Regions from separate parts of the Homo sapiens genome. Here region 2 is linked to region 1. The links come from fine-mapping of genetic effects on gene expression. A gene starts in region 1. The other region holds a variant in brackets. All regions are shown on one strand. Distances are from middle to middle.

What was found. PIP is the estimated chance that this variant, and not a neighbour inherited with it, causes the effect.
Region 2: its variant is fine-mapped to the expression of SEPTIN5 in whole blood (TOPMed, PIP above 0.99).

Annotation. Positions count from the first base shown.
Region 1 is chr22:19,708,634-19,718,386 of GRCh38, reverse strand. It overlaps SEPTIN5 (septin 5), which reads right to left and starts at 3,884. Exons shown (of 12, transcript NM_002688.6): 1 at 3,756-3,884; 2 at 3,596-3,606. The coding sequence starts at 3,798. It overlaps SEPT5-GP1BB (SEPT5-GP1BB readthrough), which reads right to left and starts at 1,167. Exons shown (of 12, transcript NR_037611.1): 1 at 1-1,167. It overlaps LOC124905079 (a long non-coding RNA gene), which reads left to right and starts at 3,592. Exons shown (of 2, transcript XR_007068003.1): 1 at 3,592-3,690; 2 at 8,553-9,397. RefSeq lists silencers at 1-104, 115-534 and enhancers at 1-590, 591-1,232, 9,235-9,742.
Region 2 is chr22:19,683,715-19,693,467 of GRCh38, reverse strand. No RefSeq gene overlaps it. Among named protein-coding and RNA genes, the nearest start is that of SEPTIN5, 26 kb to the left of the region's middle. RefSeq lists enhancers at 940-1,499, 4,482-5,330. The variant C/T (reference allele first, on the strand shown) is at 5,531.

The sequences.
Region 1 (9,753 bases):
CGGGAAACGGTCGCCTGGAAATTGGGCCGCGGGCGGAGCCACCCGAAAGCGGCTGCGGAGGGCAGGGCTGAGCCGAGGCGCGGTCGGGCCATGGCTCGCGTGGACCGGGAGCCCTGCCGCGCCCCCGGGGCCTCAGTCCGGGCTCCAGGACAGCAGGAGGGGACGACCGGGTCCTGCACGCGGGCCGGGGCGGGCCGGGAGTCGGTAGCCACCGCGCGTCCCGCCCCCAAGAGGTGCTGCGCGGCTTCCGCCCGCCAGAGGGCGCCGGAGGCCGCTCCCGGGACCCACGCGCAACAGCGCGGGTACCCGCCCAGTTCAGGGCCCGCCGTCTTCTCGCAGACTTGCCCGAAAACCTCCCGGCGGCGTCTCGACGCCCCAAGTGCCCACAGACACGCCGCGCCCTGCACCCCTCCCCAGCCCTGCTTGGGGCTGACCTCCCCCGTGCGTGCGTGCGTGCGTGCGCGCGTTTGTGTGTGCGCGTCCGTGCGGGTGTGTGTGTGTAATGTGTGTGTGTGTAATGCCTGCGTGTGTGCGCGTGTATACATGCGTGTATGCGTGTGTGTGTACGTGTGTGCATGCATTGGGTATGTGCGTGTGCGCGGGTGTGTGCATGTGTGTTTGGTGGACTCTTTCCCAAGACATTCGGGGGACCGGAGGAGGGCAGAGCCCACCTTTTCTGAAGTCCAGCCTGCCTGTCCCCTAGGAGGCTTAGGGTGGACAGAAGGGAAGGGAAGGGAAAGGAAGGGTGCAGGCTGCCGGAGTACTGGAGGTCCCTGCAAAACTTGGAAGCCCCCGCCAGCCTGCTGAATAAACGCCGGCCACCCATGCGCTGCCCTGCAGCCCTCAGGTGGCCCTGCCCTCAGAGACAGGGGTGGGGGTGGGATGGGACCCATCTCCCACGTGCTTCTGTGGACATTCCCTTGCCCTCTGAGCATCCTCACCAGCTCTGACCCACAGGATTGGAGGGACTGGGAGCTCCTGCCAGCCGGGCCTCCCTCCCATGTGGCTACTCCAGGGACTGCGGGGGTCTCCCGAGCTCCGCTCTGTGGGCCACCCACCTCCATGACCCCAGTAGAATCCCAACAGGCAAGCCCAGCGGAGCAGGACATGGGGCCTGGAAAGGTTCCAGGGTAGGACTGGTCAGGCCAAGCCCCTGCACATTAGAACATTAGAAGCTGGAGGCCCCAACCCCACCCCACCCCACCCGCCACCAGCCCTCCCTTAGGCTCTCCTGGCTGAGAGACCTCCTCCACTTCCTGTCCAGGCCCTGGTCCTGTTGTGGGGCCTGGACCACTGGCACCTGGGGAGGAGGGGCAGGCCCACAGCTGGGAACAGGAGAGCCTTTCATCCCAGGGAAAGGGGGCAGCTCCAGGCCCCCCAGCTCTACCAGTGCATCCCTCAGTCCTTGCTGCCAGAAAGCCTCCTCACTGGCCCCAGCCTTCCATGGCCCTGACCTGCAGGAAGCCTCTAGGCTGAGTCCCACCCAGTTTCCAACTGAGGGTCCACACCTCGAAGCCCAGCACCCACCCAGACAGGCTGGCATCTCAGGCCCAGGGCATCTCCAGGAAGACAGACAGCCCTGGGCCTAGGCCTCAGGCTAGGAGGTGTCTAACAGAGTGTGTGGCTCTCAGACTGCCTGCCTCAGTTTCCCCATTGGTAAGGCACAGCCTCTGGGGAGGCCCAGGTCAGGAGGGCAAGAATCTCACTCTCAGCGTTCAACCCACCTGCCCTGCCACCCACTGGGGCCCAGTCAGGGCCTGTGGATTCCCTGGGGGAGCCTCAAGGAAGGGGCCGTACCTGCCACCCCCTTTCTCTGGTCCCCAAGTGACAAAAGATACTCCCAGGGCTTCCTGAGCCATATGACACAGCTGCGCCCATCTCCTCCCAATGCCTGAGCCTCTCTGGCACTTCCATTCTTAGAATCACCCGAGTCAGCTCTGGGAGCAGCAGCCAGGGCCAAGAGATCACCGGTGCTGCCTGTGAGGAGGTGGGGGCACAGAGCGTAGTGACGGAACTCCCCCAATGCCTCTACAGCCCCCTTTCAAAGAGCAAAAAGAATGCTTGGACAGGCTGAGGCTCAGCAACGGTGGTAGCAGGGAAGCTGCCATGTGCTTCCAGCTCCCCCAGACCCACTGGTCACCCAGACACCTGGCCTGGCTCCTGCTCCGGGGCTCCCTTCCTTGGCCACACAGTGCCTTCTTCCTCTGGGCTTGGAGGCCTGGGAGGCCTGGGATGGGGTGAGGTGGACTCCCGGTTGACCTCAAACGATGGGCACCTCAGCAGGAGGGGGTCCCCACCCTGCAGTAATGGGCAAGAGAACCTGGCTGCACCCAACAGCAGTGGCTGGAGCCCAGGGTCTCAGAGTGCCCTTGGGTCAAGCTGGGGACACCTGCAGGCACAGGAGAAGCCTCAGGGGCCTGGCCTCCTGGCTTTCCCAGCCTCAGTTCCTTCCATTTCCCTCAAACAGTAGCCTGACGCATGTGTCCCTGCATCTCAGGCTTTGTCTGACCTGCTGTGATGGGGAGGCAGCTCCCAGCCTGGCTCCCCAAGGGGCCCCTCCCAGAGAGCCTCATCCACCTCTGGGTGGGGTGTGTCCCTTCCAGGAGAATGGCACTGGTCAGCCAGTGACTCCCCCAGCTCCTGGCCCCCCTGCCCGCCCTCCTGCCCTGCCTGCTGCACCCTGGGCCAGGACTCTGGAGTTCCACTCAGCATCCATGGCTCCTGAGAAACTCCATCCCTGATGGGGGCTGCCAGTGCCACCCTGGTGCCAGAATTGGGCTCTTCTTTTTTCCTCCAAAGATGGCTGAGCTCAAGCCAGAGAGGACACCAGCAGGCTTTCCCCAGCCCCCCCAGCCCACCTGGTTGTCAGCCCCCGCCCCACCCCAGGGGCCTCACAGCATTGTTTAACCCTGAGCTCGGCTGGGTTTCACCCAGGTGCCTAGACCAGCCTCCTGTCCAGTCTTGCTTTCCTGGAGGGTGGGGCCAACCCTTTTGAGAAGCCACAAGCCTATTTGTACCCACAGGGTCCCAGGACCCATCTGGGCACCCAGAATGACTCAGACCAGACCCTGGGGGTTCCCAATCTGGGGAAGAGTCCCTGTTGCAGACCTGAACACTCAAATTTGTGTATGGGGAGGGAAAGGGGCATGAAGGTGCAGGGGAGGTGGGTGGTGACCACAGGCCCTCTGCTGTAGGGCTGTTCAGGGACTGTGCTGGCTGATGGAGCCTGACTCCCCTCCCCCAGCGTGGCCTGCCACGACCATGGCCTCACCCAGGACCCCCAGCTCATGGCCTACAGGCCAGGTCAGCAGGAGATGCTGGCACTGGCCCTGTGGGAGGGGGACACTCTGCCCATCCCCCCATCCTGGGGAGGGGCGCAGGGTCCCTGCTGTGCGGGTCCGGGGACCAGGGCCCCCACTCCTCTCCTCTGAAGCCCCAGGCGCGGCGGCACTGCCCGGCTGACAATCGGTGATCGCGACAGGGCTGGGTGAGGGCCGGCGGGGGCGGGGTCGCGCCTGGGCGCCCAAGGCGCTAGTGTCACAATGGGTGACAGCCGGCCGGGTCTCCCGGCGGGGGAGCGGCGCTGCGCACGTACCTGCTTGTCCTCTGCGGGGTCGGGGTCGGGGTCGAGTCCGGGTCCGGTTCCGAGCGGGTCCGGGCCGGCGGGCGGGGGAGAGACGGAGAGACACGGTGAGAGGCGCGCGGGCGGCGGGGACAAAGGCGCGCGCGGGCACGCGGGCAGGCGCTGGGCTCACCTGGGGTCGCCAGCTTGCTCTTGTACCGCAGGCCTGTGCTCATGGTGGCCGCCGGCGGGGGACGTGCGGGGCGGGCTCGCGGGCGGGGCGCGACGACAAGCGGCGGAGGCCGAGGCCGGGCTGCGGGGTGAGCGGCCCCTCCGCGCCGCCGCCGCCGCCGCCCGCTCCGCCCGCGCGCCCGGCAGCCAATCGGCGCCCGCCGCGCCCACGCGCGACCCAGGGCGGCCCGGGGGGGCGGGGACCCAGGTCCCCCACCATGGACCCGAGACCACGGCCTCGGGGCGACGCCCTCGCCTCCTACAGCCCTGGCCGCGCCCGGGGTCACCCGACCAGACCCGCGCCGCCCCCGCCCTGCACGGCTGTTCCTGCCGGCCTCCTCCCCGCCACCTCCCCGGTGCCGCAGCCCAGGCCCAGCCTTACGCTCCCCCCGCCCTCGCTGGGACCCGGGTCCATGCCGGTCCTCGGACCATCCGTCCGGTGGCCCTTCTCTAAAGCCTGCCCTGGCTTTCCGGGCCAGACCCTGCACGCTCCGCCCCACCCCGCCGAGGTCAGCAGGGATGGTCCTGGCGCGGCTGGCCAGTGCCCAGCATTGCCCCTGCTGACCGCTCGGTGCTGCGCAGACCTGCTCTGCGAGCAGACGCACCTGGCAGGCTGTAGGCCACAGGCTTTTGGGCAGTGGTCCGGCCTCTCTCTTCCTGGGCTGTAAAATGGGATTATTTGTGAAGAGGAGTGATCTGAGGTGTCTGGCAGGACCGGCCCTGACCGTCTCACCCCAGCTCTGCGCCTGCTTCTCTGCTGACCCATAGGCTGTGGGGATGCTCCAGGCAGACCCGATCCCACCCTGCGGAGAAGGCTTGTAGGGGACCGAGGGGCACTGTGAAGGCAGGGCCAGGGCCTGCACCCCATTTACAGAGGGGGAAGTTCAGGCCCTAATCTTCAGTGAGTCAGCCAGACTCAGTGACTGAGAGCAAGTCTCTCCGGTCATTTGTGTCACTATCACATTCCCAGGTGTCCTCCGCCTGGACTTTCCCAAAGTGTCCCCAGGCGGCATCTCTGAAGGCTTTGGGGCTGTCAGGCTTGCGGTCACCACCTCCCCAGGTGAGGGCCCCCTTGTATGGAGATGTCTCCTGCACCCCGTATAGACAGTACCTCCACAGCCAGGGAATCCGCCTCTGCTCCCCACCCGTCCTGTGCCCCTTGGTCCCTCTGCTGGCCCGTGGGCTCCCTGGGTGGAGGGGGGTGTCGCTAGGGCCTTTCCATCTCTGAATCACCAGCACCCAGCACGGTAAGTGAAAAATTCATGTAAGCCGCGTCTTTGTTCCACAGTCCTTGCTCTGCTGCATTCTGTGGCCAGAGCGCCGTTGACCATAACCCTGCTCTGGGTCTAGAACTCTAACCAGTGTAGGGATCCCCCACAGTCCCAACCTCTCATCCAAGATGTGTTTGGAACTCAGGCTTTTTTGTATACATCATACATTATGTGGCACCTCTTTGGAACCTGGGGCTGCTCCTCATAATCAGACCCATTTATATTTTCGGGGCAAAACATATGTATTCAGGTGAACTGGAAGAAATAAAGACAGTAAGTGATGGCGCATCGTTCAGGTCCAGCTTTGCCACTGAGTTTTGAAAAACCTTTATGTTTCTGAGCTTTGGAGAATTTGGAATTTCGATAAAGAAATGTGTGTTGAGGTCAGGAGATCAAGACCATCCTGGCTAACACGGTGAAACCCCGTCTATTAAAAATACAAAAAATTAGCTAGGCATGGTGGCACATGCCTGTAGTCCCAGCTATTCAGGAGACTGAGGCAGGAGAATCACTTGAACTCAGAAGGCGGAGGTTGCAGTGAGCCGAGATCGCACCACTGCACTCCACTCCAGCCTGAGCCAAAGAGCCAGACTCCGTCTCAAAAAAAAAAAAAAAAAAAAAAAAAAAAGAATGTGTGTGTGGGGGTAGGGGCACTCAAAGGGCCAGGCAGGACTTCTGAGCATAGACAGGACTTTTTGGAAAGAATTGGAAAATGATGGTTGGCTGTTCACCACGTGCTGACCCATGCAAGCCTGTGCTTGTGGAGACAAAGGAGGAGAGACAGGAGCCCTGCCCAGGGGGAGGCAGGCAGCCTGTGAAAGGCACCAGCTCAGCGCCCCTCCCCATGGCTCAGGTGGCAGGGCAGCTCTGGACAGCCTTGGGTTAGGGGGTTTGAACTTGGCCTTGAGACAAGTGCATAGCAGGTCAAGGGCATAGCTCAAAGGGTGGGAGGCACATGTATACAGGAGTAATAGGTTTTAAAACAAATCTGGAGATAGAAGACAAGAAAGATGAGGAATACGGCATAAACATGATCTTTTTTAAAAAAGTCTGTCCCAAAAGATTACTTACAGAAATGCAGTTAGATTGGAGACCAGTGTTTAAGGGACAGCCAGCCTGGAGGCTGATGGAATATATAGGACTGGGAGCCACTCCTTGGAAGAGTGAAGTCAAGGGTGGTCCTGGGTCAGCGCCTCATGTAAAATGCCTGGGCTGGAAGGGGGAAGCGGCATCTGCTCCCTTACTCTGGGACTTTGGTCACCATGACTGTGAGTGCAGGGACAGCCCGAGTCCCTCCACAGACACATCGAGGCTGCACCCTGTCTAGCTGGGAGGCCTGCTGGATGGCATAGTGTCTGCATGGGACATTTCTGAAGTCAGGAAAATGGGTCATGAGGGCATCGGTCAGCAGACGCGTCTCCAGTTCTGCCAGGTGAGGCTTTGAGATACTGGCCACCACAATGGAGGCTGACAGCCCAGTGAAACCCTTATTATGCTCCTGTTCACCAAAAAGCCAACCAGGCAGGCCTGGTGGCTCACGCCTATCATTGTAGCACTTTCGGTGGCCAAGGTGGGAGGATGACTTGAGGCCAAGAGTTTGAGACCAGTCTGGGCAAGAATGTGAGACCCCGTTTCTATAAAAATTAAAAATTAAAAAAAAAAAACTGGCTGTGGTGGCATGAGTCTGTAGTCTCAGCTACTCAGGAGGCTGAGGCCAGAGGCTCACTTGAGCCTGGGAGTTTGAGGCTGCATGCAGTGAGCCGTGATGGTGCCACTGCACTCCAGCCTGGGCAACAGAGTGAGACCTTGTCTCAAAAAAAATGAAAAAACAAACAAACAACACCCAAGCCTTGGGGCTGTGGCTGATATCAGGGGGGCTGGAGCCACAGGGCAGTGGTCTGAACACACACACTTACCTCTCCAAGATGCCATGGCTTGAAAGAAAACTGCCTGCCAAAGTGGGTGTGTGCATCCACTTTCCCCAGCAGGCAGAGGAAGCGCTGGCTGTGGTACAAAAAGAAGTAAATAAAGCACTCCTTTGTGGAAAAAAAAATGCTATTTTTTAATTCATAAGGAAAAGAAGTTAATGAATAAAAAAATAAGCTACACCAAGAAAAATCTGTTCAACCAACTTGGGCTACAAATAGCTTGACTCTTTTCAGAAAAAGCCTCTTAGTGAAGAAATTCTCCAGAGGCTGCATTTGAACCATGCTGGGCCTCCCTCAGCACACAGGGGAGTGAGCGCCCCAGGGCTGGGACCCGGAGAAGGATGGAGCTGGTGGGGAGGTGGCAACGGTGATGGCGACGAAAGAATAAGGCACCTGCCATTGGCCCTTGGGAGCAGGTCTTGTGGGTGACAGGCTTCAGAGGGGGAGCAGTTTGCTCCAGGTGACACATGTCGCCACACTCCCAAGCCTGTCATCTGCAGTTAGGGCTGAGGCCACCACTGACAGGTTCCAGATGGCTCAGTCCATCTGAGGCTGAGGATGAGGGAAGAGGCCAAGATGCATGCAGGGTGTCAGGCACCTGAGAGCCCCACAGGCCTACCTGCATGATCAACTCGGGCAACCCTGACCTGTGCTGGGAATGGGGTGTTTTTTCACCCTGAGTAGACGCAGGAAGTGGAGGTCAGGGCGCGGTGGAGATCTGCTTGAGACTAAACAGCCGAGACTAGAACCCACGACCGTGGAGCCCAGGCCTGACTCCTGCAAAGTGCTGTGACCTGGTCGCGGCCCAGCCAGGGGCTGTCCCAATCAGGCAGCTGCTCGAGGCCTGAGCTCACATCCCTTCTATCCCCTGAATTCACCAGCAACCTGGTGGGTCCCAGATGATCCTCCTGACCCCTGCATTTTTCTACTGCTCTCATGCTCCTGTCCCTGCTGTTCCTGAAGCCCTCGCCCGCCAACCCTGTGAGATTTGAACCCACCCCCAGTACCTGGGGGCTCCGAGGGAGGCCGTGTGACCTGCAGCTTCATGCCCCTGCACCTTGGCACTAGTGTGCCCCCTGCCTGGGCTGCCCTTCTCTAGCTCTGCCGACCCAGCAGCACTGTCTCCAGCCCCTCCAGGCCCACCGTGCCCTATGCTGGCCTCTCTTCTGCAGGACATGGCCTGCCAGGCAGCAGACTCCCGACTGGCTCCCTGGCCCCCACACTCAGCCCCTGTCTGGCACCTGGGAAGCTCAGCAGCATCAGCTCCTGCTGGGTGGGGGCACAGGCTCCTAGGCGTGGATTCACAGGGCGGGCAAGGAGGGCCTGACTAAAGAGCCAGGCTCTGGGGAGCTTCAGACTGCATATTCTGAATCCCAAAACCTCTACTGTCTGCAGAGGGGTGCTTGTGTGCTCAGCCCAGCTCAGGGGGGTGTGCGGAGACCAGGAGGTTCTGGGGCGTCCTCCCTGCTCCCAAAGGCAGTGGCTGTCACCGAGCACAAGGGGAAGTGTGTGCACAGTGAGGATTCTACTGAAGAATGTTTTCCTTGATCTCCTTTTCAGAAAAATGTAAGGGGGTCACTGCACAAATCAGTCCTCATCACCGATGGGAAGACATGCCCATTAGAAGAGCACAGAACCCACAGCAGCTGTCTCTGCCTGGAGGGTGCGGCCTGGTCCTGCTTAAAGCCGCCTATGTCTTGCAGCGGTGGACAGAATAGGGCTTCAAGGGGGCTGAGTCTCAGTCCACACCAAGTCCCCGATTCCCTGGGCAGCTGGAGTGAGTGCTACAAAGGGCGCCTGTGCTCCACGGCAGGGAGCCAGCCTGGATCCAGAGCTGAGGGTCTGAGGGAGGTGGGTCTGCAGCCACATCTGATGGGCCTTCAGAGTCCCCTGAAGGATCTGGGACGGCGCCTGCAAGATAACACAGAGAGCAGCCCAGGGTAGGGACCAGGCGTGCAGTGTGACTCAGCTGGGAAGAGCTCCCCACGGTAGGGGGCGGAGGGGAACCCTCCACAGGGATGCTGCCTGAGGGGGCTGCACGGGACCATCCCCAGGCTGTCCCGGCAGGCAGAGGTCCTCACTGCAGTTCTGTGATTTTATGAGAAGCTGAAGGTGGAAGAATAGCAGATGAATGAAGAGATGTGAAATGGCACCAATGTTGATATTCTCCTGTGTCATGCATGGAAGCATGACAAACATCCCACGGGAGCAAGCGCTTGCGAAAGGCAGAGAGCAGGGCCAGAGCACGGTGACCTAGATCCTGCGGCTCACCCCACCCCTCCATCACAAAGAGCTCAGCGCTGGGCTCCAGGGACTGGCTCCAGCTCCCCACTGCATCTACCTCCCAGTCAGGCAAGAGAGATCTGAAAATCACTCTGGAATAAACAGGACCCTACTGTCCCGTCTTCAGGACCTCTGTTCCCTGGACCCTGGTGCTGCGTGCAAATGCACTGCCTGTTGCACACCCAGGCTCCCACGGGGAAGGTGGTTGCCAGAGCCCTCAACTTGGCGGCCCATCACCTGGTTTCGAGGCCTCAGGTGATGGCCATACCTGGGTGAGGATGAGGACCCCAGTCTCAGCTCATTCCCTGCCATTGTGTCCTCTCCAGCCCCCCGGACTGAACGCCACAGAGGCCGCCTCTCCCATGGAGGACAGCCAGAGCTCTGCCTGCCCCAGAATGCACAGCACACATTGCTGCGGGGGCGGATGGTGTGGGTCAGGAGGGTGAGGAGCTGCCATCCCCGGGTGCCATGGCCAGGG
Region 2 (9,753 bases), 25 kb after region 1:
ACCACTGGGTAACTCTAGAACATTTTAAACTGAGACGTCATTCACACACCATAAAATCCCGACACGTGCCCCAACACCGATGAACCTTGAGGACGTTATGCTAAGAGACGCCAGCGACGAAAGGGCAGATACCATGTGGTTCCACGTATGTGAGGTGCATAGAGTAGTGAGGTTCATAGGCACGGACAGTAGAATAGGGGTTGCCAGGGGTTGGGGGCAGGGGATGAGGGGGGCTGCTGTTTAATGGGGGCAGGTTTTAGTTTTGCAAGATGCATAAAGTTCTGAAGATGGATGGTGGTGACGATTATACAACACTGTGAATGTATGTAATACCACTGAACTGTGCACTTAAAAATGGTCTGGGTGCTGTGGCTCACACCTGTAATCCCAACACTTTGGGAGGGCGAGGAGGGCAGATCACCTGAGGTCAAGAGTTTGAGACCAGCCTAGCCAACATGGTGAAATCCTGTCTCTACAGAAATACAAAAATTAGGCCGGGCACAGTGGCTCATGCCTTTAATCCCAGCACTTTGGGAGGCCGAGGCAGGCTGATCACGAGGTCAGGAGATCGAGACCATCCTGGCTAACACGGTGAAACCCTGTCTCTACTAAAAATACAAAAAATTAGCCGGTGTGGTGGCGGGCACCTGTAGTCGCAGCTATTCGGGAGGCTGAGGCAGGAGAATGGCGTGAACCTGGGAGGCGGAGCTTGCAGTGAGCTGAGATTGCACCACTGCACTCCAGCCTGGGTGACAGAGCAAGACTCCGTCTCAAAAGAAAAAAAAATTATCCAGGCATGGTGGCAGGCGCCTGTAATCCCAACTACTCGGGAGGCTGAGGCAGGAGAATCCCTTGAACCCAGGATCAGGCTGTGGAGGTTGCAGTGAGCCGAGATCACACCACTGCACTCCAGCCTGGGAGATAGAGCAAGACTCCATCTCAAAAAAAAAAAAAAGACTCAAATGGTAAATATATGTCATGTATATTTAACTACAATTTTTTAAAAAAGTAAATAATTAAAAATCAATCAAATGAAAAGTTGCAGGCCAATGGGCCTAGAGTGCTGCCGGGTGTATTAATATGTCGGCAAAAGAAAAAAATGCTCATGCATCCATGCATCCATGTGCCTGTACTTGTACACACCACCCTGGAAGGATACCAAAGAGCTGCCCCGTGAGCCGGTGACAAGGATGGCATTCCTTAGGTGGGTGGGAGCCCCAGGCAGGAATCTCCACAAGTGAGTCCTTTCATGCTCCTGGAACTTGGAATCTTGGGACTCTGTTACCTATTAGAAAAAGTTAAAAAATTAGTTGCCAAAGGAGGCCAAGCTGAGGGAAAAGAGCTAAAGCTTCCAGCAGCGATGGTGGCCCCACCCCACCAGGCCCCACCTTGGGCGGGGGCTCCCGGGAAGAAGCCAGCCTGTCCGGTGAAAGCTTGAAGCTCCTGTTCTGTAAGGAGCTGAGTAATGGTGACATACCAAGGCAGGTCAGCAGGGAAGAAGGCGACTTTGTTTATTCCTTCCCTCCTAACCTCACACATCTTCCGCTCAGAGGTCCAGCAGTGTGCGGTCGGCCCCGTCCCAGTGGCTAGACTGAACGATCTGCTGAGACCACGGAATTCTGAGCAGAAGGCGTTCCCAACAGCCACGCTCACACCCAGAGCACAAGCTCCCGGCCAAAAGCCGCCTCCCTCGGCTGCACAGGAATCTTAACATGCGGGATTATCCACTGAGGAAAGAGTGGAATGGAACAAACAGAAAAAGTGAAGGTTCCTGTAAAGGCGATTAAAATCGACTTAGTTGGCAGCCGAATGTTAACACTGCTGCAAAGCCTTAAAAAGAAAGCCAGCCATTTTATGCAGAATTTACATCCCAGCAGCCCAAGAAATGAGGCTCTTACCTAATTAAGGAGCAGTAACAAGGCATATTACTTGCTTCTGTTTTTATTTTTACCTTTCGGATAATTTCCAAATAAATTATTACCAAGCTGTTTTGAGGTTTGAGAATAAGAAGAAAATCTGATATTCAAAATAAGGAGTCGTTTCATGGTCTCTGACTGATAAACAGACATCCATTAGCAAAATGAGAGAGACACATTTTCCTAGATCAAATTTCCAAAGAAATGAAGTTTGTTGTGTTTTCTTGTCAAAATGCTGGCTGCCTCTGGTGTTTTGATGAAACATTTTCCTCTGGAGAATAAGAAGATTCTGGAAGTGTCTTGTGTGTTTGGAGGGCTAAATAGATGATAGACATAGTGATGCTGTTAGAAGTTAGGGCTCTCTTGTAGAAGGAGGTACAGATACGGAATGACGGACACAAGGAGGAGCCTGCAGGGCCGGGCAGGACTAGGAGTGACTGTGAATTCATGGTATGAGTTATTATGGATGCATTATAACTAATTACACGATAATTAAAATTAATAGTACAATCACATATTAATAATACAACTATATTAATAATATAATCACAATTCAATGATGTTTAATAGTATTATTAATTGTATATTTATTTATACATATTATAATAATCTCACAAATAATTTTTTTCTAGGATCTAAATGATACCATGGTAAAGTGAGCACAACTCATGCCTGGACCCCAGTGTGGAAGAAATACTCTGTTCTAAGAAAGCTGGCCTTGGTCGGGCGTGGTGGCTCACGCCTATAATCCCAGCACTTTGGGAGGCCAGGGCAGGAGGATCACTTAAGCCCAGGAGTTTGAGACCAGCCTGGGCAACATAATGAGACCCCATCTCTATAAACAATTTTAAAAATGTAATCAAGTATGATGTTGGGGACCTGTAGTCCCAGCTACTTGGGAGGCTGAGCCAAAGAGCCATGATCCTGCCAGGGCGCTCCAGCCTGGGCAACAGAATGAGGCTCCGTCTCAAAGCAAAGAAACAAAAACAAACAAACAAAAGGAAGCAGGGCTCCTCAGGGAAGTGGCTGCCTCCAGCGCTGCAGCAGTTAAAGTGCAGGCTGAGCCGGGTGCAGCGGTGGTGCCAGGAAGCAAGGGCGTGCTCCACCATGACAGGGACACGGGGCCGGTCAGCCAGCATCCAAACAAGCCCCACAGCCACTGAATATAACTCACCGAATCAAAGAAAACCCCACAAGCCTTCACTGGTAGCCAGAGGGGAGACTGGGCAGTTTTCCTTACGGTGGAAAGCCAACTACTAAATGGAGAAGAAATGAAGGAGTTAGAAAATCACTATGTTGAGTGGGCATAGTGGCTCACGCCTGTAATCCCAGCACTTTGGGAGGCCGAGACAGGAGGATCGCTTGAGCCCAGGAGTTTGAGACCAGCCTGGCCAACATGGTAAGACCTCATCTCTACCAAAAAAATTTTCAAAAAATTAGCTGGATGCTGTGGGATATACCTGTAGTCCCAGCTACTTGGGAGGCTGAGGCTGGAGGATCCTTTGAGCCCAGGAGTTTGAGGCTACAGTGAGTCATGATCACAGCACTGCACTCTAGCCTGGGTGGCAGAGTGACACCTTGCCAAAAAAAAAAAAAAATGGTAGCACAATGTAGATTTTTACAGAAGGAGCAAGAAAGGCCACGAAGCAAAATGTTTAAAAGCAACAACTTGAAGTGAAAGGTTTAAGGAGCTCATTGAGCTTTCCTTTTCTCCGGAAGACCCCAGAGAGAGCCCTGAGTGGGTCTGTGGCCATTGGGAGTCTCTGGCCACCACAACGGGAGCTTGTGGTCCTGTAGGAGCTGATGGATGGGTCAGCATCGCCTGGGCCGAGTGCCCATGTCTGCCATGTGACTCGTGGTCTTCCACAGCAGACACTCAGCTCTCTACATACAGGCGTGGCTGGTACGAAAGCCACAGGGGCTCCCCCAGGGCCCCAGCTCAGGGTCGGACGTGGGATGTGGCCGGCCCCAGACTCTCTGCTCGAGCTCATCTGTGCAGCCTCACAGGGGCTGGCCCTGCCACGGGTGCCCCTCCCGGGCCGTGCACCAGGAGGTTTCCACCCTGACCTGTGAAGATGCAGCGCTCTTCGGATCTGAGCAACACACTTCATTCAGGATGGGCCTTTCCCAGGACAGCACTGATGGGAGCTTCCTGTGCACACCTGTTGGGCTGTGCTTCTCCTCGGAACATCCGGTTAAGCAGGAATGGGGCCTGTGTTGGGGTAAGGGGCTGCTCCACTCCCTCCATGCCCCACCTGCAACTGTGCAACCACCTCCTGCATCCAGCCAAGCTGAGGGGTCCACATGGATGGTCAGCAGGGTTTCACCTGGCAGTGAGATCTGCCCCCTGCACTGGGGGGACGAGGGCTGGTCTGTCCTCATGTCCTGCCCCAGTGGCCACCCCAAGCCCCAAGGGAAAAGCAGCACAAGTGTGTCTGCTCCCCACTGCGTAAGGGCACCTGCTCCTCTTTCCACCGGCCAGCTCCTGGATGCCCCACACCCGCAGCCTGTGAGCAGAGGGTGGCAGGAGGGAGAGGAGGTGACAGAGAGCCCAGAGATAAAAGCCAATGTGTGGGCCACTCCTGAAGGCTGCAGGCACAGAGACAGGGGGCACCTATCAGGGCTTGGGGCTGAGAGGACGCCCAGAGCTGCAGGCGGAGAGCAGGGGTCACTGCCAAGGGCTCTGGCCAGAAAACCAGGCATGGGGCTCTGGGGAGCCTTCAAGGAAACAGGCCCGGGGCTGTGGGCTGAGGCGGGGCTCTGGTGAGACAGCTCCTAAACCCCAAGCCAGCATGGCCATGCTGGGTCCCTGACCTCCAAGGCCATTGCTCTGGGGGATAAGACACGCCCAGTAAGCAGGATCCCAACATCTACTCATCCCGGCAGCCTCTGGGCCTCTGCAAACCCTGCTCGGGGGGAAGAGGAGGCTGAGGGGGAGGCTGCACCAGGCAGAGCTGTTGGGGAAGGGCCCCTGGATGCCACATGTGAACCTCAGAGAGGGCAGGTGTGTGGGCAGGCACGGCCGGGCCACGGGAGCACGTGTCCGGGCAGGGAGAGGGCAGTGGGCCTGGGCTGAGCAGGTTGGGGGCCCTGCGAGAGAGACTAGGGAGGTCTCCAGAGGGGTGGCATGCCCAGGGTGTTAGGGAGATTGATGTGGCGGCAGCAGACCCCCGAGGAGGCAGGGGTGAAGGTGTCACCCAGGAGGCTGCAGACAGCTGGCCAGCCGGGGTCCGAGGGGCCAGTTAATGAGGAGAGAGCCAAGGGCCAACGTACCCAGGAGGAAGGAAGGAAGCCAGGCCAGGCAGGGATGGGTGGCGAAACACAGCGTGAGACCACAGTCATGAAGTAACTCCCGCAGCCGCTCCACTCAAGCCGGTCCTGAGGCGGTTTCCACACTTGTTGGCTGTGACTACAAATTAAAAAGCCAAGTGCAGACATCAAGGCTGCCCTGCAGCTGTGACACCCCTCCCCGCCCCACCCACCACGCCTCTGACTCCCAGCCGAGGGCCGAGAGCCCCTCCTGAGCACACCCCATCCACCCAGCTCCACAGTGTGCACAGGGTGTGGCAGCCTTGGATGCAGAGAAGCACCTTGCAGCCTCCCCAACAGGTTCC[C/T]GCTGGCCCAGTGCCAGCCCTTGCCCCAGTTGTGCAGGGACCTGCGGAGCTGTGCTGCAATTCATTTCTTTGGCAACAATGACCTGAGAGAGCCTGGCCTTAAGAGCGAAGATAAACGGGCTCTTCGACTAGGATGTCCTTGTCACAGCGGGAGGGAGATCTGCAGCTGGCCCTGCTCCCTTACCCCTTTGCACAACGTGAGGAGCCCCTGAGAAGAGCCCATGGACCACGCCGAAATGCAGGGTGCTGTGGGGTTCTCCAAGGAGGAGGCCAGGCCCTTGTCCTCAGCTCAGCCCCGGGGGAGGAACCCAGGGAAGGGGAGACAAATTTTGCAGGGATGTGGAGTCCCAGAGAGCAGGGCCCCTGTTCAGAGCCGAGAGGGGCCGCAGGGCGTGGGGGCAGAAAGAAGTGCAAGGGCTGTGCACCAAGGACACAGATCAATAGCCGGTTCCTCAGAGTGCAGCTGAAAAGCTTAAAAGCTTTGAAAATGCAATGTCTGGGTTCTGCCGGTGAGCACCTAATAGTGCTCTCTGAGAGTGGCCCCCGACTCTGCCTTTTTTTTTTTTTTTAAATGCAGATACCGGTTTAAAGCTAGACACACTCTCAGTTAAGTGTACACCAGCCTCACAGACTTCATGATCCAGACTTGTTCTACGTGACCCAAATTACACATGACTGCCTGTTATGTGCTTTAAAATATTTTTTAATTGAATTTTTTCTGTGGAGATCATTGTAGATTCACAGGCAGCTGTAAGAAATAACACAGAGAGGTCCCTTGTACCCAATGGTACCATCTTGCAACGGTAGGACATCATAGCCTGGATGCTGACACTGGTACGGTCAAGATACGGGATATTTCTGTCACCAGAGACTCCCTCCTGCTGCCCTTTTACGGTCACACGCACCTCCCTCCCACCGAAGCCCTTTCCTAACCTCCAGCAATGGCTGATGTGTCTTCCATTTCTAGAATGTTGATTTCAACAGTGTTATGTAAGTGGACATGGAATCATATAGTATATCATCCTTCAGGCCTGGCTTTTTCCACTTAGCATAATTCTTTGAAGATTTATGCCAGTTGTTGCAGGGATCAATAAAAACTTCAATTCTTTTTTTTCCTATCAGTATTGTATAGTTTTCAGTGTTCAAATTCTGCATTTTTAAACTTAATTTAATTTTTTAAATCTTTTTAGAGATGAGGTCTCACTTTGTCACCCAGGCTGGAGTCCAGTGGCATAGATCATAGCTCACTGCAGCCTTGAACACCTGTGCTCAAGTGATCCTCCCCTCTCAGCCTCCTGAGTAGCTGAGGCTACCAGTGCACAGCACATACCTATGTTCTATATATGTTAGATTTATACCTAAGTGTTTCATTTTTTGAGGGATTTTAAATGGTATTGTATTTTTAATGTCAGTGCCCATGTGTTTGTTGCTAGCATGTAGAAATAGAATTGACTTTTGATCGTTTATCTTATGTCTTGCGACCTTGTTAAACTCACTTATTAGTTCTAGGAGGGCTTTTTTGAGGGTAGATTCCTTGGAATTTTCTATGCAGAGACAATCATGTTATCTGTAAATGAGGGCAGTTTTGTTTCTTCCTTTCCTGTCTGTGTGCCTTTTATTTCCTTTTCTTGCCTTATTGTACTGGCTAGAACTCCCAGCTCTGTGCTGAGTAAGAGTGGTGAGAGCAGGCATCTTCTCTTTGGATCCTGGAAGGAAAGAACTTAGTTTTCACCATCAAGTATCACATTAGCTGGCCAGGCGCGGTGGCTCAAGCCTGTAATCCCAGCACTTTGGGAGGCCGAGGCGGATGGATCACAAGGTCAGGAGATCGAGACCATCCTGGCTAACATGGTGAAACCATGTCTCTACTAAAAATACAAAACATTAGCCAGGTGTGGTGGTGGGCACCTGTAGTCCCAGCTACTTGGGAGGCTGAGGCAAGAGAATGGCGTGAACCCAGGAGGTGGAGCTTGCAGTGAGCTGAGATCACGCCACTGCACTCCATCCAGCCTGGGTGACAGAGTGAGACTCCATCTCAAAAAAAAAAAGAGTATCACATTAGCTATAGGTATTTTATAGGTGCCCTTTACAAAGTTGACAAAGTTCCCCCTTTATTCCTAGTTTTAGAATTTCTGTTATGAATGAGTGTTGAATTTTGTCAAATGCTTTTTTTTTTTTTGAGACGGAGTCTTGCTCTGTCGCCCAGGCTGGAGTGCAGTGGCATGATCTCGGCTCACTGCAAGCTCCGCCTCCCGGGTTCACACCATTCTTCTGCCTCAGCCTCCCAAGTAGCTGGGACTGCAGGCACCCGCCACCACGCCTGGCTAATTTTTTGTATTTTTAGTAGAGATGGGGTTTCACCATGTTAGCCAGGATGGTCTCGATCTCCTGACCTCGTGATCCACCCTCCTCAGCCTCCCAAAGTGCTGGAATTACAGGCGTGAGCCACCATGCCCAGCCGATTTTTGTCAAATGCTTTTTGTGCATCAATTGATATGATTTTTCTTTGTTAGCCTGTGAATTCAGTGGATTACATTGTTTGCTTTTTGAATGTTTAACCAGTCATCCATTCCAGGAGTAAACTCCACTTGGTAATGGTGTACAATTATTTGTATGTAGTGCTGAATTCTATTTGCTAATATTTTATTAAATATTTTCTTGGTCTATATTCATGAGGGATATTTTTCTGAGATTTTCTTTTTTTCTACTATCTTTGTCTGGTTTTGGTATCACTGTAATTCCAGCTGCATAAAACAAATTGGAAAGTCTTCTTTCCTCACCTATTTTCTGGAACAGTGGTGATAAATTTTTCTTTAAAGATTTGATAGAATTATCTATTTAAACGATAGGAGTCCGGAGATTTCTTTTTTTAGGAGTTCTAAAATTATTAATTAAATTCCCTATTCAAATTATCTTTTTCATATTGGGTAAGTTGTGGTAGTTTGTATTTTTCAAGAAATTGGTTCATTTCATCCAAGTTGTCAAATTTATATGTATAGAGTAGAGTTATCATTCCTGATATTGGTAATCTATGTCTTTTTTTTTCTTTGGTCAGTATTGATAGAGTTTTGTCAGTTTTATTGACCTTTCAAAGAATCAGCTTTTGGCTGGGTGTAGTGGCTCATACCTGTAATCCCAGCACTTTGGGAGGCTGAGGCAGGAGGATTACGAGGTCAGGAGTTCAAGACCAGCCTGGCCGATATGGTGAAACCTCGTCTCTACTGAAATACAAAAGTTAGCTGGGCGTGGTGGTGCGTGCCTGTAGTCCCAGCTACTCGGGAGGCTGAGGCAGGAGACTCGCTTGAACCTGGGAGGTGGAGTTTGCGGTGAGCCGAGATTGCGCCACTGCACTCCAGCCTGGGCAACAGAGCAAGACTCCGTCCCCCTCCCCCCACAAAAAAAGACAATCAGCTCTTTCTTTCATTGATTTTCTCTATTATTTTTATAAGGATTTTATTAATTTTTGCCCTTATCTTTTATTATTTTCATCCTTCTGCTTGCCTTGGGTTTATTTTGCTCTTCTTTTCCTAGTTTCTTGAGGTTTTTGAGCTTATCGATTTGAGACTTTTCCTCTTTTCTAATATATGTGTTTAATGCTATAAATTTTCCCCATCCACAATGCTTTTTCTGTGTTTTGACATTTGTACTCCATTTTCATTCAGCTCAATGTATTTTTTAAAATATCTCTTGAAACTCCTTTTTCCCATGGATTACTTATAAATGAGTGGTTTAGTTTTCAAGTATTTGGAGGTTTTTCTGTTATCTTTCTGTTGATTTGTAGTTTGAATTCATTGTGTTTGGAGAACCCACACCATGTGATTTCAATTTTTAGAAAATTGTTAAGGTTTGTTTTGTGCCCCAGAATATGGTCTATATTGGTATATGTTTCGTGGGCACTTGGAAAGAAAGGATAATCTGCTGTTGGAATAAAGTGTTCAATAAATGTCAATTAGATCCTGTTGGTTGACGATATCATTGCGTGCTTCTATTTTCTTGCTGATTTTCTGTCTAGTTGATCTATCAATTGTTGAGAGAGGAGTGTTGACGTATCCAACCACAATAGTGGATTTGTCTATTTCTCCTTTCAGTTCTATCCCTTTTTGTTGTATATATTTTGCAGTTCTGTTGTTTGTTAGATAAATGTTTAGGATTACTATGCATTCTTGTTGCATTGACCCTTTTATTATTGCATGTCAGTCTTATCCCTGGTAAGTTTCTTTGCC